Linked DNA regions of Homo sapiens: region 2 is linked to region 1. The links come from fine-mapping of genetic effects on gene expression. A gene starts in region 1. The other region holds a variant in brackets. All regions are shown on one strand. Distances are between the middles of the regions. Region 1 holds the start of IL18R1 (interleukin 18 receptor 1). Region 2 overlaps IL1R1 (interleukin 1 receptor type 1).

The links. PIP is the estimated chance that this variant, and not a neighbour inherited with it, causes the effect. A credible set is the group of variants that fine-mapping cannot tell apart.
Region 2: its variant is the best candidate, but not a certain one, in a credible set for the expression of IL18R1 in thyroid (GTEx, PIP 0.76).

Annotation. Positions count from the first base shown.
Region 1 is chr2:102,354,183-102,358,182 of GRCh38, forward strand. IL18R1 (interleukin 18 receptor 1) reads left to right here and starts at 1,614. Exons shown (of 11, transcript NM_003855.5): 1 at 1,614-2,218. RefSeq lists an enhancer at 1,383-1,884 and silencers at 1,479-1,588, 1,609-1,668.
Region 2 is chr2:102,173,510-102,177,509 of GRCh38, forward strand. It overlaps IL1R1 (interleukin 1 receptor type 1), which reads left to right. Exons shown (of 12, transcript NM_000877.4): 10 at 1,078-1,221; 11 at 1,969-2,136; 12 at 2,844-4,000. The coding sequence ends at 3,250. The region is part of intron 2 of IL1R1-AS1 (IL1R1 antisense RNA 1); the gene reads right to left. Among named protein-coding and RNA genes, the nearest start is that of IL1R1-AS1, 6.6 kb to the right of the region's middle. The variant T/TTC (reference allele first, on the strand shown) is at 1,584.

The sequences.
Region 1 (4,000 bases):
AAATCCTCAAGTCAGTATAAGTCTCTCAACTTTGTTCATCTTTGTCAAGATTGCCCAGACAGGCCGGGCAGGTGGCTCACCCCTGTAATTTCAACACTTTGGGAGGCTGAAATGGGTGGATCACCTGAGGTCGAGAGTTCAAAACCAGCCTGACCAACACGGAGAAACCCTGTCTCTACTAAAAATACAAAAGTAGCCAGGCGTGATAGTGCATGCCTGTAATCCCAGCTACTCGGGCGGCTGAGGCAGGAGAATCGCTTGAACCCGGGAGGCGGAGGTTGCAGTGAGCCGAGATCGCGTCATTGCACTCACTCCAGCCTGGGCAAGAAGAGCAAAACTCCGTCTCTGTCCGGACAATCCTAGATTATTTGCATTTTCATATGAATTTTAGAAACAGCTTCTTAATTTCTTTGAAAAATTTTCCTGGGATTTGGATTGAATTGTATTAAATATATAGATTCTGTAATATATAGAGTCTAAAAATATACAGTGTGGAGAATAGATGTCTTAAGTCTTCCAATCCGTAAACGTGGTATATCCCTTTATTACTTAGATGTTTCATCTCTGTTAGCAATATTTTGTAGTTTTCACAGGAGATATCTCATATATTATCCAATGAATTTATACTTTGGTATTTTGATTTTTAAATGCTATGGTAAATGGCATTTTTAACAAACTTCACTTTTCAAGTTTCCATCTCTAATATATAGAATTGCTATTGATTTTTATATTCCATGATCTTGATAAACTTAATATTTCCAGTAGTTTTTTTTTTTGTAGATTTCAAAAGTTGGTCTACATATAATTATGCTCTCTGTTAAAACCAGTAGTTTTAATTCTTTCTTCTCAATCTTTATGCTTTCTAATTTTATTTTTATTTCTTCACTTGTTGCAAAGCAGTTGTCCCAGGTGGGAGCCAAAATCCTTATCTCATTACTAATCTTAGGAAAAAGTAAAATGTTTCACTATTATGAGGTCACCTGTAGGTTTCTTATAGATGTTCTTTATCAGATTAAGAAAGATCATTTCTACTCTCGGTTTTCTGATCGTTATTAATTCAGAAAGGGTGTTGAATTTTGCCAGATGCTTTTATTTGCATTTATTGAGATAATTACATATTTTTATTTATTATGTGGTGAATTATCTAAATTGGGTAAAAAGAATTAAAATCATTGTCCAATTGAACATTTTGCCTGTCGGCTATGGGTTTCCCTTTTCCTTTGGTTAAATAACAGTTCTGCCACAAAATAAAAATCTAGAAACACACATTCCCCTTTGGCCTCCTTAAAAAAAATTAAAACTTCAACAATTGCACCCCTCTCTATTACTTCCCTATAGTGAACTCCCATCCTTCTGGGAAAGCAAAAAGCCTGGGGCGCATTTGTGTACTTGAGACGCGGAGCCCCTCTCACCTTCGGCATCCCCCGGGGACCCCTCTTCCACCCTCAGCCCTCCCCTCCTCTTCCTCTGAAGAGCCGGGCGGCCGCTGCGGCCAGCGGTCCTCCCTCCTGGCATCCTCTGCTGTGAACCGCGGCCTGCAGGGTGCTTGCGAGCGGCCCGGGCGCGCCCCCTTCCGGCCCCGCAGGTCACCCGGCTACAGCCCGGGTTTTCCCGGGACCCGCGCCGCGCGGCTGGGCAGGAAGCGCCAGACGCCTGGGGCCCACGCCGTCCGCGGGAAAAGGGCAAGGCGCTGGGTTTTCCAGCAGCAACCTTTGGACCCCGCGATCCAGTAGCTCCGGTAACTCCACGCGGGGCGTCTGGGTGGAGGAGCCGGTCCTGGAGCACGGCTGCGAGGAGCACCCGGACCGGAGGGTCCCCAGACCGGGACCTCCGAGTCAGGGAGGATTCTACGCCAGGGAGCGCCCCAGACTGAGAGCGCCCCAGACCGCTACACTCCCGGACCCGGAGCTTCGCCCGACCGCGGGCAGTGCCCACCTGCAGCCTCCACCGGCCGGGGTTAGCAGCCAGGAGCTGCCAGACGCCTGACATTCTTCTTTCTGTTCCTACTTTTTTTCCTTCTTCTTCTTTTTTTTTTTTTTTGTAGCCCTCTCTGGGTGCCTTATCTCTTTAATCACACCTCTCTTTCACTTTCCACGGTAGTCAGGAGGCGGAGATCGCTGCTTCTCACCTACTTTCTGAACTTGGCCTCCGCAGTCGCGACCTGGCGTGAAGGAGGAGCTGCCGCCCCCGCCCCAGCCTCGGGGACGCCTCTCTGAAGGTAAGGGTGGGCTCCGCTGCCACCCGCATCCCCTCCCCACCCCCCAGAGGAAGGGAAGACCACCATCCGGGGAGGGATTCTCAAAACAAGATCAATTAAGAGAGAGAGAGAGATAGTGTGTGTGTGAATACGTGTGAATAATTGATGAGACAGCATCCTGTCTTTCTCTGAAAGTATAGTTTTAGAAATTAAGACATCCCCAATTATTTTCTGGAGAGGTGAGAACGACTGAAATAAATGATAACAATAGTTGTCATTTTTTAAGTGCTTACTGTGTGCCTGACACTGTAGAAAATTTTTAGATATCTTATTTTCACTTAATCCTCCTAAGGGCCACATGAAATAGGAACTATTATTATGCTTTAATAAAAGGGAGGAGGAATTCCGTCATTTACCCAAGAGTATCCAGCTACTAAGTAGTAGATCCCAGATCCACACCTACAGTTTTTCTGATTCCAGAGCCTTTGTCTTTTTTCTGCCCAGCCTTGGGAAGTTAAAATGCCCAGCACCTTGCATCGCAGTTATCAGACAAATTAATGAGGTGTCAATTGCAGCCAGATACAGAGATCCAAGATTATTGTATTCATTTCACTGACTTCCCTTGCTTCATTCTCAAGACCCTTTGCAAATACTGATTTTGTGTCATACACAGTGCTGCTATTGGGAGCACACCTCTCAACCTCAGGGCCTTGGATGGGCTAGGAGGGGTAAATTTGGGGAATTGGGTTTGTGCAGGTTCTGGGGACAGTGTTTTCCCTCTCCCTGCACAAATATACATCCAAAGGCTGAGAACTAAGGCTAAGGCCTAGGAATGTGGATTGAAAAGGCAGGGTCTAAATCCCAGCACTTGGGAGGCTGAGGTGGGCGGATCATGAGGTCAGGAGATCGAGACCATCCTGGCTAACATGGTGAAACCCCGTCTCTACTAAAAATACAGAAAATTAGCCAGGCATGGTGGCATGCATCTGTAATCCCAGCTACTCGGGAGGCTGAGGCAGGAGAATCCCTTGAACCTGGGAGGCAGAGGTTGCAGTGAGCAGAGATTGTGCCACTGCACTCCAGCCTGGGCGACAGAGTGAGACTCTATCTCAAAAAAAAAAAAGAAAAAAAAGAAAAGGCAGGGTCCCTGCCTTCAGGGACCTCACCAGAGAGTGGGAGCTAGTCCAGGAGTGATGGAAACACCTGCAGAGTGATGGAGACGGGCTTGGACATAGGCATGTGCCATTTGGGGCTGTTGCAGTTGGAGAGCTTCCTTGAGAAGGCAAATACTGAGCCAAGTTGAAAGGACTCTAGGGACCTGGCATCTGGGATAAGTGGGGAGGGTGGCCCAGGTAGCACAGGCATAGGCAGATTTGGGGGGAAGCATAAGGCTAACAACAGACACTTGTGTGACAAGGACTATGAGGTGGCATTGATTTTCTTGGCCTTACAGATGAGAAGCCAGATTCCACACAAATTATTTTGTTTGTTAGAGTTTAAGCGTGTGTGTGTGTGTGTATGTTATGCCCCAAGATCATTTTCTCCTCTTTGCATTTGGTTGTTTTATCATCTCACAGGCTGAGTAAAACGACTATGCATGGAACACTGTAGAAGAAAAATTATATTAAAAAAAAACTGGTGTTATGATTTTCATCCAGGCATTTTGTCTCAGGAGTTGCTCGATTGTATGTGTTGCTAATGAGTGATTTATATTGAGGCATCTACATTGATTCATGTGTGTCCTTGTGAATAGCTGTAATCTGAGGCTGGCCATTTCACTTCCTCAAATCTCAGGTTCCTCAT
Region 2 (4,000 bases), 180 kb before region 1:
AAATCATCAAATACTTAAGAATAAATCTAGCAAAAGCTGTTCAAAACCTCTGTAATACAAACTAAAAAATATTGAGATAAATTAGAGAAGAACTAAATGGAAGGATATACAATGTTCATAGATTGAAAGACTCGATATTATGAAGATATCAGTTCTTCCCCAAATGAATCTATGGATTCCAAAAAATTTCAATCAAAATCTCAGCAGTATTTGTACAAGTGAGAGTCAGTGTTTGTATGGGTGTGTTTTTGTGGACACCTGTAAAAGTCATAGGGAACTGTAAAGGACCAAGTATAGTCATGGTGGTCTTAAATAAGAAAAATAAATCTGGAGGATTATTACTACAGACATCATGATCTTGTATGAAGCGACAGTACTTAAGACCGTAAGTGTGAACTATCATTTGGGCCAGCTGGATATTTGTCTGGAAAATGGTATAACTTGATTTCTGTTTTATATCCAAATCATTTAAATTGGAAAAGTAAATAAAGCTTTTAGATTCCCTTTTCTGGATGCTTTTACATGGTTCCTGATATTTAGAGGGTACTTTCTTTTTCTTCCCTCTTTCTTCTTCTCTAGCCCCCTCCCCATCACCTACTCCATCTGCTCCCCAGCTTCCTCTTTAATTATTGGATAACTAAGTAGAGAAGGAGGCCAGGAGAATGTGGAAATGTGAAACTTCCCTAAGCCTCCACCTTATTCGCTTTCCACCAGTCTTTAACTTTACCCAATGGACTCTCTGACCTCAGGGAACTTTTGTAGGCTTTTGAGTGATTTTAACTTTTCCCTGTTTTACTGTGGAATGCTCTATCCTGTGGTCTTCGGTATTATTTCCCATGTTATTGTATATTATGCTATTTAGGTAGAAACTTCATAGAATGCACCTTAGTTTTATCATTGCTTTGTACATTAGTATCCATTACAAAGTGATAATAATGAATGAGTTAATATTGTCTGAATGCAGGCCATTCCCAGATATGGGCTCTCTGAGACGAAGATATTTAATTTGCTGTGCTCAAAGTTTTAATTCTTTTTGGTTCTAATATTTTTTCTCCTTTTTTTTTCTTTTTGCTATAGTCACTAATTTCCAGAAGCACATGATTGGTATATGTGTCACGTTGACAGTCATAATTGTGTGTTCTGTTTTCATCTATAAAATCTTCAAGATTGACATTGTGCTTTGGTACAGGGATTCCTGCTATGATTTTCTCCCAATAAAAGGTATAATTTTGTATTCCATGCAGTATTTCTTGTTGGAGATAAGGGATAGTTAGGAGATGTAGAAGATGACTAAGAGGGTTTTTACTAAGAGGGTTTCTAAAATGAAAAGTGGCATATACAAGAATACTAGTTATTCTTACACAGAATTATAGTTTTAGAACTCATTAGGCTGAATATCATTGTTTTCTAAGTTCCTGCCTCAACATTCATATTGGTAGAATAAACAGGTATTTAGAGCATCTGTTTATAAATTCAGTTATGCACAAGCCATTGGTAGGCCTTGCTCTGTGATGAATAGGACAGACAGAGATCATACCTTAATGAAAGAAATGAAATGACTAGATCTTCATGCATCAGGGAGG[T/TTC]TCTCTCTCTCCTTTGTTTAAACTTTGCGAAAAAAAAAAAAGGAATACCACAATATCTAAAAAAAAATGAATGGATAGAATTCAGGGCTGAGACCTCTGGGGAAGAAGATGAGGACAGGGAGACTTTAAGGATGGCTCTATACTAAGAGTATACGAGGCAGCCTCCAAATAGAAGAACAAATTTGCAGTAAAACACAAGAAATAGAAACCTTGTAAGAGATGAACACTTTTTAAAGGGATTATATTTTTGGTATTGCTGCTTCAGTCATGCCATTGTATAAAAAAAGATGAATAGTTCATTATGTAATGAATGTTTGTGATACTGACTTTATCAAATCTCTTATTTTTGCCTTGTGGTTCTAAATACATTATGTTTTTCCTTTAGCTTCAGATGGAAAGACCTATGACGCATATATACTGTATCCAAAGACTGTTGGGGAAGGGTCTACCTCTGACTGTGATATTTTTGTGTTTAAAGTCTTGCCTGAGGTCTTGGAAAAACAGTGTGGATATAAGCTGTTCATTTATGGAAGGGATGACTACGTTGGGGAAGGTATGTGTGTAATGGAACAGAGTAAAGGCTTATTGTTGTAAAACTACTTAGTAAAATGTGGATTCCATCTTTCTAGAAGATCGTGGCATAGGGGTATATGTTTCACAATTTTAAGAACCTCTTCAGAAGTGTATGATGATTTTTACATTTATTAAATGCATTTACTTCTCTCATATTTTGTCAGAGCAATAATTAAGTGATTTTCATTTAGTTTTGAAAAACTTAATGACTAGTTAAACCCAACAGTTGCTTTACAACTGATACAATTAAACAGGAGTGGTAGAGATCAAATGATTGAATAATAAGTTTTTAAAATTCCAACAAAGTTTTCTGAGTTCTAAATGAAATATTTGTCTTTTGAGGGCCAATTTTTGAGTTAGTCTATAAAATGGGAGGTTTGCAGTGGCTCATGCCTTTTATCTCAGTACAACCCTGGGAGGCCAGGGTGAGAGGGTCACTTGAGCCTAGGAGTTTGAGGCTGCAGTGATCCAAGATCACGCCACTGCGCTCCAGTGTGAGCAACAGAACAAGAGACTGTCTCTTAAAATTAATTAATTAAAAACATGGGAAACTCCTTTAATTTTAAGTAAGACAAGAAAAAGGCATTAGGAGCCATACGGTTGTGAAAAGCCTTGTGTGGCTTTGGTTCAGGAGAGAATGATGATAAATAGAATTTTACTTACTATATTGTGCTTCCTGTTTTTCAGACATTGTTGAGGTCATTAATGAAAACGTAAAGAAAAGCAGAAGACTGATTATCATTTTAGTCAGAGAAACATCAGGCTTCAGCTGGCTGGGTGGTTCATCTGAAGAGCAAATAGCCATGTATAATGCTCTTGTTCAGGATGGAATTAAAGTTGTCCTGCTTGAGCTGGAGAAAATCCAAGACTATGAGAAAATGCCAGAATCGATTAAATTCATTAAGCAGAAACATGGGGCTATCCGCTGGTCAGGGGACTTTACACAGGGACCACAGTCTGCAAAGACAAGGTTCTGGAAGAATGTCAGGTACCACATGCCAGTCCAGCGACGGTCACCTTCATCTAAACACCAGTTACTGTCACCAGCCACTAAGGAGAAACTGCAAAGAGAGGCTCACGTGCCTCTCGGGTAGCATGGAGAAGTTGCCAAGAGTTCTTTAGGTGCCTCCTGTCTTATGGCGTTGCAGGCCAGGTTATGCCTCATGCTGACTTGCAGAGTTCATGGAATGTAACTATATCATCCTTTATCCCTGAGGTCACCTGGAATCAGATTATTAAGGGAATAAGCCATGACGTCAATAGCAGCCCAGGGCACTTCAGAGTAGAGGGCTTGGGAAGATCTTTTAAAAAGGCAGTAGGCCCGGTGTGGTGGCTCACGCCTATAATCCCAGCACTTTGGGAGGCTGAAGTGGGTGGATCACCAGAGGTCAGGAGTTCGAGACCAGCCCAGCCAACATGGCAAAACCCCATCTCTACTAAAAATACAAAAATGAGCTAGGCATGGTGGCACACGCCTGTAATCCCAGCTACACCTGAGGCTGAGGCAGGAGAATTGCTTGAACCGGGGAGACGGAGGTTGCAGTGAGCCGAGTTTGGGCCACTGCACTCTAGCCTGGCAACAGAGCAAGACTCCGTCTCAAAAAAAGGGCAATAAATGCCCTCTCTGAATGTTTGAACTGCCAAGAAAAGGCATGGAGACAGCGAACTAGAAGAAAGGGCAAGAAGGAAATAGCCACCGTCTACAGATGGCTTAGTTAAGTCATCCACAGCCCAAGGGCGGGGCTATGCCTTGTCTGGGGACCCTGTAGAGTCACTGACCCTGGAGCGGCTCTCCTGAGAGGTGCTGCAGGCAAAGTGAGACTGACACCTCACTGAGGAAGGGA